Linked DNA regions of Homo sapiens. The protein of the gene in region 1 purifies or fractionates together with the protein of each later gene. This does not show direct contact. Each region holds a gene or a part of one and is shown on either strand. Other genes may lie near its edges. The genes, in order: WDR72, HERC4 and SPAG1.

The links.
Region 2: the proteins of WDR72 (region 1) and HERC4 purify together in Homo sapiens (affinity purification with mass spectrometry; one large-scale study listed by BioGRID and IntAct). This does not show direct contact.
Region 3: the proteins of WDR72 (region 1) and SPAG1 purify together in Homo sapiens (affinity purification with mass spectrometry; one large-scale study listed by BioGRID and IntAct). This does not show direct contact.

Annotation. Positions count from the first base shown.
Region 1 is NC_000015.10:53,753,111-53,756,836, forward strand, and holds part of WDR72 (WD repeat-containing protein 72), read right to left. Parts: intron 3,708-3,726; exon of another isoform or gene 3,557-3,707; intron 1-3,556. UniProt on the Homo sapiens protein: Plays a major role in formation of tooth enamel. Specifically required during the maturation phase of amelogenesis for normal formation of the enamel matrix and clearance of enamel proteins.
Region 2 is NC_000010.11:68,072,484-68,076,775, forward strand, and holds the start of HERC4 (probable E3 ubiquitin-protein ligase HERC4), read right to left. Parts: upstream 2,801-4,292; 5' UTR 2,661-2,800; exon of another isoform or gene 1,204-2,660; 5' UTR 1,174-1,203; exon of another isoform or gene 704-1,173; 5' UTR 626-703; coding exon 400-625; intron 1-399. UniProt on the Homo sapiens protein: Probable E3 ubiquitin-protein ligase involved in either protein trafficking or in the distribution of cellular structures. Required for spermatozoon maturation and fertility, and for the removal of the cytoplasmic droplet of the spermatozoon.
Region 3 is NC_000008.11:100,164,992-100,168,717, reverse strand, and holds part of SPAG1 (sperm-associated antigen 1), read right to left. Parts: intron 2,905-3,726; coding exon 2,745-2,904; intron 1-2,744. UniProt on the Homo sapiens protein: May play a role in the cytoplasmic assembly of the ciliary dynein arms. May play a role in fertilization. Binds GTP and has GTPase activity.

The DNA.
Region 1 (3,726 bases):
CGTGTAAAAATACTGTGTTCTTCCAAGGACTAGTTATCTTCTTCCTTGGCCCTGACATCTACTTCCCTTCTTTCAGTTTCAGCACAAGTTGACATTGGAAGTCAGTCCACTGTAATTATAACAATCCATTTTTCCTCCTAGAATAAGCAAATGGCAGGTACTCCCATAGGCAGAAATACAGGCCTATATGGACAAGGCCTATTTGGAGAAGCCTCCCTAATGCCCACGATTCTAGTGTTTTCTGACTCTGTCCTAGCAATCAGGAATACCTGCCAGGGAAGACTTTAAACTCACCTTTTGCACTAAAGGATTCTAGCAGAAGCTAGGCCAAAACAGACTTTCATCAGCAAGGCTATGAATGCAGAATCCCAAGGTGGTTTGGAAAAAGTGGTAGAGGAAGTACAGGATTTGAGGCTCATAATCTGAAGGAACCATAGCCTTTGTAGCTTTTGTGAACATCTTTGTGGATTTTCTGTCATGAGCCAAGATAAGCCCCACCTCTGTTTCATAGTCCCTATCTCACCACTTGATTATTCAAAATTTTCTCTAGTCCTGGCTCTTCCTACTTTCCCTTATTCCTAAACACATCCCACCTTCTGTCTTCACTATCCTTGCCTCTTTTCTCAGTGTTAAGGCACAGTGTTGTATACTCAATTCAGCAAGTGTTTACTGAATGCCAACTGTGTTCCAGACCTTGTGCTGGTGGCTTTCCTATGCATTTTCTCAAGTAATCCACACATCTACCATTACTGTTATTAGGAAAAGAAGGCTAGGTAAATCTAAATCCCCTGGCTACGACTACATCCCTAGGGATTACATCCCTAGATTTGTATGACCTCAAAGCCCATACCACTTCTTAAAGGCCTTGAAAGTGAGAATTCATAATGATGACATCATCATCTGTTTACAGTTCCACACAGACAAGCCAGTCCACCTATTTCTTTAAAGAAAATGAAACAAAACAAAACAAAACAAAACAAACACAACTTAAATTCAACTACAGGGGTGGTTAAGATGCCAAATCACTCTTAGACTAAAGACTGTTTAGTCTAAGAGTCTTAATCTGTAAAACCTATTCATTATGTATGTGGAAGTGTATGCATGGGCCAGAATGTTTTCAAAGCATCAGAACTTAATACAAAAACACTAAAAAGCTCATCGTAACACTAGTGTCATGGAAAAAGACTCATAATACACAATGTGAGATTTCCACATTGGGGTGACTGCAATGCAGTTTATGACATAAGAGGTAGCAGAGGGAGACACGAAAGGGCTTGCCTGAACCTACAGGCCAACAAAAACCAGGCAATATGTGGCACTATGGCACTTTCTAAAACATCCTGGCCTCTGCTTATTCTAAGAAAAAAAAATCCGTGGCAAAGGGGATCCCTCTTCTCTGCTTGATTTCTACTGACCAAAGAAGTCACTGTCCAGTGATATAAAGAAATTCTGTCCCTAGGGCATAAATAAATATCCAACACCTATAGTTCATGGGTGTATAAGAGCCTGAGAGGCCTGGAATCGATCCAACCCATTTTAACTAGCAAGAAACTACCTGGTAATACCTTGTTTGTATTTCTTGGAGGAGGGACACAAGAAACACTTATTTCATTCCACACAATAATTCACCACAATCAGAGAGAGCACAGCAAGGGCAACACCATCTCCCAGCTGCTGATTACATCAAAGGCTTGCAGCACAAATTCAATTTTATGATGTTAATCTCAGCCTGCCACTCAGAAATTTTCTCTGAGGGATATGATTTTTCTCTGGATTTCATTTTAAGAATGATTTTCTTCATCCACAATCAATAAAGATATGTTTTCATCAAAAGACTCTATCTTGGCAGAATTCAATTGGCTATTTCAACCCCTTTTGGTGACACAATGTTAATTAAAATAGTTTATGTTGCACCTCAACTGGAAAAAGAGGCAGTGAAAATAGGAGCTACTCAGAACACATGTTCTATATACATCAACATGGAAGGCAGAAAATAATTTTCTCCTTCCCCAGGCGACAGCTATTAGCTATTCAAGAGAGTTGCTCTAACTTGGTTTATCTCTGTGATCTCACTGGAAAAAAGAATGAAGTCCTTCCTGTTTATATTTTTTTGTTCAATTGGAAATCAAAATGCATATAAAGAAGATACTTTAAATGCTTACATCCCAGTTCCTCAACAAGAGGAGAAATAATTATCTGTGCTCCTATGTGGCATAACGGATTATTAGGCATCACATTCATTATTTCCCTTAACTAAAAATTAATGATGCTATTACAAATTATTTTTATTTTCAATTTTAAATAATAATTACAGCTAAATACATTGTATTTCTCAAAAGCAGGCATATAGATTCTCAAAAGCGGGCATATAGAATTAGCACAGGGTTTTGCACATTTAAGAAAGAGAAGAAAACTATGCAATGCATCACAGAAAATAAAGCAATTTGTTTTAACAGTGGTTTGGGAAGTGGCAGTTAATTAATTTAACAAAGATTTATAAAGCACCTACTGTGTTCTTGACTCTGTTCTCCTCTTGAGAATGAGATGAAGGCCCCACTTCCTGTCCCATGATGCTGACAGATCATGGGGCCTCCATTACCGCAGAAAGAGAAGGGCTAGGCCTGGTTCCCACAAAGCAGGTAGAGAGCGCAGCAGAGGCTGCACTTAACCCTGCTGGGAGGAGATCAAGAAGAGTTTCTCCAAGGAAGTCCAATTACTGAAACATTCAGCTGGTAATTTACATATCCAGTCTAAAAAAGTGGGGGGCATAGCTCAGTCTCTAATAGAAAAGGTAGTCTCTATCAACCACACCTTCTCACTCCCCCATTCTGAAATTCATTATTCCTCTTAACATAAGAAAGTGGTAACAAAGAAAGTAGGAGTACTGATACCCTAAGGAGAATAAGGATTTCACAGGACTCTGTGTTCTAATCTATACTAAAGCAATCTAAAAATCATATCAGCTTTCTGGGCTAATATGGTTTGGCTTCATCCCCACCCAAATCTCATCTTGCAGTTCCCATAATCCCCACATGTGGTGGGAGGGACCCAGTGGGAGGTAATTGAATCATGAGGATGGTTTCCCCCATGCTGTTCTCGTGATAGTAAGGTCTCGCGAGATCTGATGGTTTCATAAGGGGCTTCCCCCTTTGCTCCGCACTCATTCTCTCTCCTGCAACCCTATGAAGAGGTGACTTCCGCCAGGATTGTAAGTTTCCTGAGGCCTCCCCAGCCACGTGGAAATGTGAGTCAGTTAAACCTCTTTTCTTTATAAATTACCCAGTCTTAGAGCAGTGTCCTTAGAGCAGTATGAGAAAGGACTAATACATGGGCCCTCACAACTCACTGCCGACTCACAAGCAACAAAATGTCAATTAACCAAAAGGTTGACTGGTTCAGTAAATTACATCTCCCTCATCCTGTACTCGCTTATTGTTTTAAACACTTACTGTGTAGGGCTTTACATTTCTCCCAGTTGAATTTCAACTTGTTAAAAAAAAAAGACAGAGAGAGAGAGGAAAAGTCAGTGTCAAAGTAAACAATTGCTACCACTTACTGACTATATGTTAAGTTGTAGACACTGTGCTGCTTAGATTACGTTCACTGCTTCATGCGGTCCTCATAATATCAATATGCATTATTATCACTATTCCAAACATGAAGAAAATGAGTCTTGGAGAACATAAGTAACTTGCCGAAGGTCAGAGCTAGGAAACAAACAGATCC
Region 2 (4,292 bases), on another chromosome or scaffold:
CTTCCGTCTTGTTTTCCTCCCCCCTCCCAAAGTAAGGTAAACACAGAGTAAATTATGCATTTAAAATCTATCCAGGGTGGCTGAACAGAATTTATTAAAGAGGACCTGCACACTACACACTCTGTACCAAAGATTTATATACTGCAGGCTGATTTTCTTTATTGTTTTATATCGTCATACAAAATAAGGTTTTATAATACTAGTAGTAAAAAAAAAGAAACCACAACATAAAGTACTTAGAACCATACAAATATACACATATAATGGAAATACATAACTTCTACTTTGCTTTTAAAGCTTGATAAACATATAGTTACAACTAGAGAAATTATACGATGATTCAAATTTAAAATGATATAATTATTAAAAATAGCAAATTTTAAAAACATTTCAACTTACCTGGTTTCTTTCTGGATTTTTCATGACCTAGCTGTCCTAGATCATTACATCCACATGTGTACACTGTTCCATCATCCAGAACAAACACAGTATGTCTGAGTCCACATCCTACATCTCGGACCCTTTTATTTATAAAGAAGTCACTTTTTCTGGGCTCTAGTACAATTTCTTCATCAATTCCACCCAAACCTAGCTGCCCAAAGGATGCATTTCCCCAGCACAACATGCTTGTAATTATTTTGGTCTTCCAGTTTCAATAAAAAATTCTCTTCTGAAACCCCGGAAAGTTGGAGGTACCCTATGTCTGAGGAAATAGAAAGAAGTTAATATGACTTCAAAGAAAAAAGGATGTATAATTGCTCTTTCAAGTGCTAGGCTACAATAATTGCTACATGGTAAACATTAAATATACTTTATAACATGCTACATAAGTATCATTCAGTTTCAAAAACCAATCAGTTGTATTTTTTAAAATGTATCATACAGAAATTTTTAGGGAAAATATGACACTTTCTATGATCCTTTGCAAAATTTAAAACATATTAACTAGTTTTGACTTCTGGTTATCTTGTGATAGACTAAACTAATAGGAATAAGTACCTTGATGAAATTAATCACAATTTTTTCTACTTTTTGCTTTAAATAATTTCAATGGGAACAAGAAATAAGACATCTTTCCTCTGCCCAAAAAGCAAATATACACAGTGCAAAATTTAGCCAACTGCAGAAACATAACCTTGCAATCCTAGTATAATTAAGCTTTCTAATACCTACCTCCACATCAACAGAAAATGGAGTTCTTATCTGTAACAGAAATAAAACCAATAATGGAAATTTAAAGCAATTTTCCACAATTTAAACGACTCTCCCAATTACTCTTTAGCCCAGAGAGAAAATGAAGATTCTCTTACCAAACCATAATCTTAAATCACCTCCAAAGATCCCAGATTTCAAATCAAAATACTAACATTCCAACCTCACTAATTTTAAAACTAAATCAATGTGCATAATTATAATACAGAAAAAAAAACATGCAATTTAAATATCAATTCTCTCCAAAATTCAACCTCTTTTATTACAAGTGGTAACCGGGATTAAAAAAATCACCCGTGGGCAATCTATATCTATCTATATCTCTGAGACAATTATTTAAAGATTGGCGGGGGGGAATTGCAAATAACTCCAGCACTGCAGATTTTTCAAGAATAGGAATGGATAGTCTGATGGCGAAATCTGTAGAACTTTCCAGCACACTGACTGAATATTTCCTCACTTGTAAAGAAAGACACAAATAACAGAGTCCACTTCATCTATACATACGTAGACTTTTAAACACATCGCGTTACTAAATATCATAATTACAGGAAGTCAGCCTTATTCTGTAGCAGTCATCCACATTCTTACAGAGCCTGCGAAGTTTCAACTCCAATTTTCCTATGTTCCTGTTAGCAAGTGCCCAAGGTGTCCCATTCCACGACCCATCATCCCATTAACAGAAGTTTGATTTCATTCTTTTGGGGTATCAGAACTCGATAATTCCCAAGAGTTCTGCATTGTCTTCCCATATTTAAAAACAAAATAAGAGTAATACAGGAAAATACCCCGACTTCAGCGCGCGAGGTTTAACCACCCTTTTCTTTAAAACACAGAGGCGTCCTCTCGCCAGCAACAGGTAGGGAAATGAGAAGCAGTTTAGTCCCGTCTTTCCCTGAACGTGCACCCAGATCAGCTCATGGGGACTGGGAAAGAGAAATCATCTGCACACACCCAACCTCGCAGCCAAGCAGACGACTACCGCAACCGGCCGCTCGCAACAGCTTCAGAGGCCGGCGGCCGAGGCTTGGCAGTGCGCGGCCTCAACCTGAGAGAAGCCCATCCCCAGGCAGATGAGACATTCCAGCCCCGGGGCCAGGGAGCCACAGCCCTGCCCTCGCCCCACGCCCCTCACCCCCAGGAAGCGCGGAGAAAGCGCCCTATGCCGGGCCGGCCTGCATCCGCCCAGCCCGGCCTGCCCCTCCCTAACGCCGTCACACGCCCCCGAACCCGCTGGGGCCACAACTCGCCCAAGCCCTTCAGGGTAGGGGAAGCCCAAGGTGACGGGGGGCGGCCCCTGCCCAGAGAGCAAGGCAGCGCGGTCGCTGAAGCACGTCTCCGGCTCCTGGGACCCTCCTCTGTCAGCCAGTGGCGACGATCACCAGGGCACCTCCGGCGTCTGTGCCGCTGCTCCGCTGCTCCCCTCCCCGGCCCCTGGGAAACTTTACCGGGTTCCTTAGAGAAAAGCGGACGCCACTGCTGTCCAGTCCAGAGACAGCCGTCAGCGACCCGGATGGAGCGGGCGGGGAAGAACGGGAGGCAAGCGGGGCGGAGAGCACCAGGGGTGGGGAGAGTTGGGGAAGAGACTGGGTAGGAGAAGGCAGAGGGGGAGGTGGCCACGCGAGGGAGGCGGGGGAGGGGCTGGCCGGAAGTGAACCGCAGAGCACGCGCGCGAGCCCGCCCACTTCCCGGCCCCGGCACCGGCGCCTGCGCCGAATCTTCCGGGGGGGGGGGGGGGGGGGTGGCTGGCCACAGGCGCCTGCGCAGTGTGCCGCTTTGCGTTGCTTTAAGAGGGAAAAGCCAAATACAGAAAGTTGGAGTTTGCGAAGACAAACGAAGAAGATGTCAACTGTTTTTGAGAATGCTTCGGCGTGCACAAAGCCTTTTAATGAAGAAAATCACTTTGTTTTTTGGTTTGGTTGTCTTTGTGCTCATGGATGCTAGCTAGTCTTTTTATTATTTTACTCTCTCTTTTCCCAAGGAGATTTTAAAGTAGCAGATGAAACATCACAATTATGAACATAAAGACTGGTGAAGAGTTATTTTATCCCATGGCCTCAACTGGAGCCAGTCTGAGGATGTGAGATGTGTTGATGGCAATGGCTGAAGCTACTCTACTACCACCACCACCAGTTCAGTTTCCTTGTACAGTGTTGGCTACCATCACTTTCTACACTCTCCCTGAAAGATAGGCTTGAATTGCAGGGTCTCATTCTATCAGAGAAAATTACACATTGGCTGCAGTCCCTGATTCATAAAAACGAAGTCTGGATCTCCTAGGCCAGCCTTAACTTCTTAAAAAGCAGGAGAACTTGAAACAATGCACTTTTGAAATTGTAAGTTGGGTATTGCTAGAATGAATATTCAGTACCTAGAAGAAGTTCCACAAATAGGCCATCTTTCTTTTTCTTTTCTTATTTTTATTTATTTATTTATTTATTTATTTATTGAGACAGAGTCTCGCTCTGTTCCCCAAGGCTGGAGTGCAATGGTGCGATCTCAGTTCACTGGAACTTCCGCCTTAGCCTCCTGAGTAGCTGGGACAACGGGCATGCGCCGCCATGCCCGGCTAATTTTTGCATTTTTAGTAGAGACAAGGTTTCGCCATATTGGCCAGGCTGGTCTCAAACTCGTTACCTCAGGCGATCCACCCGCCTCGGCCTCCCAAAGTGCTGGAATTACAGGCGTGAGCCACCGGTCCTGGCCTGTTTCTTTATCTCTTGTTGAAAAACATGTTTTAGATAAGAACTGTCTGTGCTAGAATATGTTCAAGTGTGTGTATTCGTGTCCTAGGCTTGCCATATAAATTAAAACAGATTCGGTGGCTTAAAACAACAGAAATTTATTGTCTCACAGTTCTGAAGACCAGTTCAAAATCAAGGTGAAAGTAAGCTTGGTTCTCTCTTGGGGTCTCTGAGAGATAATCTTTTCCAGGCTTCTCTGCTAGCTTCTGGTGGTTGCCAACAATCCTTGGCAATCCTTGTAGAAGCATCCCTCTTCACCTTGTTTTCCCTGTGTGTCTGTCCAAATTTCCCTCTTTTATAAGGACACCAGATATTGGATTAGAGCCTACCCTGATC
Region 3 (3,726 bases), on another chromosome or scaffold:
AAAGCTCTGTCTCAACAACAAAAAAAAAAAGATGGCTGGGCATGGTGGCTCATGCTGTAATCCCAGTACTTTGAGGGGCCAAAGCAGCCCAGGAGTTCAAGACTAGCCTGGACAACATAGTGAAGCCCTGTCTCTACAAACAATTAAAAAAAAAAAAATAGCCAGGTGTGGTGGTACACACCTGTGGTCCCAGCTACTCTGAAGGCTGAAGTGGGAGCATCGCTTGAGTCTGGGAGGTCAAGGCTGCAGCGAGCTGTGATGGTGCCACTGCACTCCAGCCTGGGCAAAAAAGCAACGTATCTGATAAAGAACAATTATTTGGCAACTCAATAAGAACACAAGGCAATTTTTTTTTAACGGGCAAAGGATGTAAAGACACCTCACAATAGAAGTTACATGAAAAGACACTCAATATCATTAGTCACTAGAGATACGCAAATTAAAACCACAATGAGATACCTGGTAGGATGGCTAAAACTAACAAAACGGACAATACTATGTGCTGACCAGGATGTAAAGCAGGTGGAAATTTTATATATTGCTGTCAGGATTGCACAATGGTACAGCCACTTTGGAAAACATTTTGGCAGTCAAAACATAGTATATTTAGGGCTCAGTATTATCTAGGTTTTAGGCATCCACTGCGGGTCTTATCAAAGGTAAGTGGGTAAACAAACTGTGGGATATTCATACAATTTCATACTACTTAGCAACTCAGAGGAGCAAACTATGGACACATGCAACAACACAGATGAATCTCAAAAGCATTATATAAGTGAAAGAAGACACACAGGAATGACAACATACTGTATGATTACATTTATATGCAAGTCTAGAAAAGGCAAAACTATGCTGACAGTTCAGTGGTTGCCAAAGGCCAGGCAGTGGGGTCTACACTGACCACAAATGGGCAAGAGAAAACTTTTAGTGGTGATGGAAATGTTCTGTATCATATACGTTTGTCAAAACTCAGTGAAATGTACACTATAAAGTTGGTAATTTATATGGAATGTAAATTTTATCTCAATAAAGCTGATTAAAAGAAATCTGTAAATATTTAAGAAGAAATTTAAGTGACAGATTCATGAAAAATAACTCAACTTTTCTAGCAATCAAAAAATATACTACAATAGTCCTCCCCTTATCTGTAATTTTGCTTTCTGTGGTTTCAGTTACCCACAGTCAACTGCCATCCAAAAATAGGTGAGTACAATACAGTAAGATATTTTGAGAGAAAGAGAGCTCATATTCACATAACTCTTACAACAGTATGCTGTTATAATTGTTCTGTTTTTTATTGTTAATCTCTTAGTGTGCCTAATTTATAAGTTAAACTTTATCATAGATATGCATATAGAGGAAAAAGCATGGTATATTTAGGCTTCAGTACTATTTGCAGTTTTAGGCATCTACTGGGGGTCTTGGAAAGTATGCCCCAAAGATAAGAAGGGACTATGGTACTACCATTTTTTCAACTATTTAATTGACTAAAAATGATTACAGTATCCAGCAAAGAGTACCTAAAAATGGGCATTTTGTTTGTTTGTTTTTGTTTTTTTTAATAAAGAAACCAGGTCTCTCTGTATTGTCTAGGCTGGCCTTGAACTCTTGGGTTCAAGCAATCCTCCCTGAGTAACTGGGACTATAGGCACACACCACTGCACCTGGCTTGGGCATTCTTATACACTGTTGGGGGTGGTGTATGAAGGTACAACTTTTCTGAGAACATATGTTTGAAAAGGCTTAAAAATATTCAAATCCTTTGATCAAACAATTTAAATTCTTTTTCTCTTTCTCTTGCTTTTTGTTTTTAGACAGGGTCTCACTCTGTCACCCAGGCCGGAGTGCAATGACACCATCACAGCTCACGGCAGCCTCGGTCTCTCAGGATAAAGCGATCCTCCTGTCTCAGCCTCCTGAATGGCTGGGATTACAGACACATGCCACCACGTCCAGCTAATTTTTATATTTTTGTAGAGACAGCTCTACCTATGTTGCCCAGGCTGGTCTCAAACTCCTGGCCTGAAGTGATCCTTCTGCCTCAGCCTCCCAAAGTGCTGGGATTACAGGTGGTGTGAGCAACCACATCTGACCAAGCAATTTGAATTATAATAATTTATCCTGAGGAAATAATCAGGGAGGTGCAAAAAAATTACAAATAGGCCAGGCATGGTGGCTCACACCTGTAATCCCAGCACTTTGGGAGGCCGAGGTGGGTGGATCACCTGAGGTCAGGAGTTCGAGAAGTCTGGCCAATATGGTGAAACCCCATCTCTACTAAAAATACAAAAATTAGCCAGGCATGGTGGCATGCACCTGTAATCCCAGCTGCTCGGGAGGCTGAGGCAGGAGAATCACTTGAACCTGGGAGGCAGAGGTTGCAGTGAGCCAAGATCGTGCCACTGCACTCCAGCCTGGGCAACAAAGCAAGACTCCATCTCAAAAAAAAAAGAAAAAAAATTACAAATAAACATGTTTATACAGCACTATTTATTGAAGATGATTAAATTATAGGTTTTTTAATAGGACAGAATATTATTTAATCAATTTAAATATACACATGTACGGACGCACACACACGCGAATTCGCAATGTTCCCCTGGGTGTAAAAAGCAACCAATCCTGCCTAATTGACACTAAAAGCCCTTTACGGACAAACAAGAAGCCTAGGATTTCCGATAAGTGAAGTAAACATATATAGAATGTCTCAACAATATCTATGGAAAATTGGTATTACTATATACCTTTATATCACCATCAATTTTTTCCCATTCTTCAGCTGTAAAACTGGCTGCTGTTGCTGCTGGTTTATCTTTCCTCAAAGCTCTGCTTTCAGGGGCCAAGGCTTGAAGATGCTTTTCACAAAATTCTGTAAGTTCAGGATAATATCCTTCCTCACCAGATCTTAAAAAGAAATAAATAAGTTTTAGAGTTAGCACCTTATTTAGGATCATCTAGACCAGCGGTTTGCAGGCTGGGTTCCATGGAACCCTGAGGTTCTGTGGAGATCTCAAGGGCTGCTTCCCAGTCTCTTTCCTTAACCCGCATAGTCTCCATTTTTACCCGTTAATCTATGGAATGATTAAAAGAAGAAAAAAAGGAACTCCAAAGTAACCAATTTTCATCACACACTTTAAAAACTGGATAAGGGTGAGTGGGGCGGTGTGGTCCCCGGCACCGTGGAGGAAGTGGGGTTGCTCCGCGGAGTTGGCGTGGGTTCTGGGTTCCTCCCGGCGCCACCATGTCAAAGGTTTCCTTTAAGATCACTCTGAGGTCTGACCCGCGGCTGGCGTACAAAGTACTCTGTTCCTGAAAGTACACCTTTCACAGCAGTCTTACAGTTTGCAACAGAAGAATTTCAAGTTCCTGCTGCAAGAAGTGCAATTATTACCAATGATGGAATAGGAAAAAATCCTGCACAGACCTGCTGGAAATGTTTTTCTAAAACATGGTTCAGAACTGCGAATTATTCCTAGAGTCGTGATGGAAGTTGTTAATATCGGCTGCTTGGAACATACAATTACCTTTCAGAATAAATATTGGTATTTTTTGTTGCTGTAAAATTGAAATCAGGCATTTAACACACTATGAAAACACCAAGAGTCAATGAATAATGAGACTCATCTGTCCCTGTTTGTTGTCTGTACTCTTCATGTGAAGAGGGAATTCATATGAATTAAGGGTAATAGTGTCACAGAAGATTGCTACCTCACACACAAACAGGTA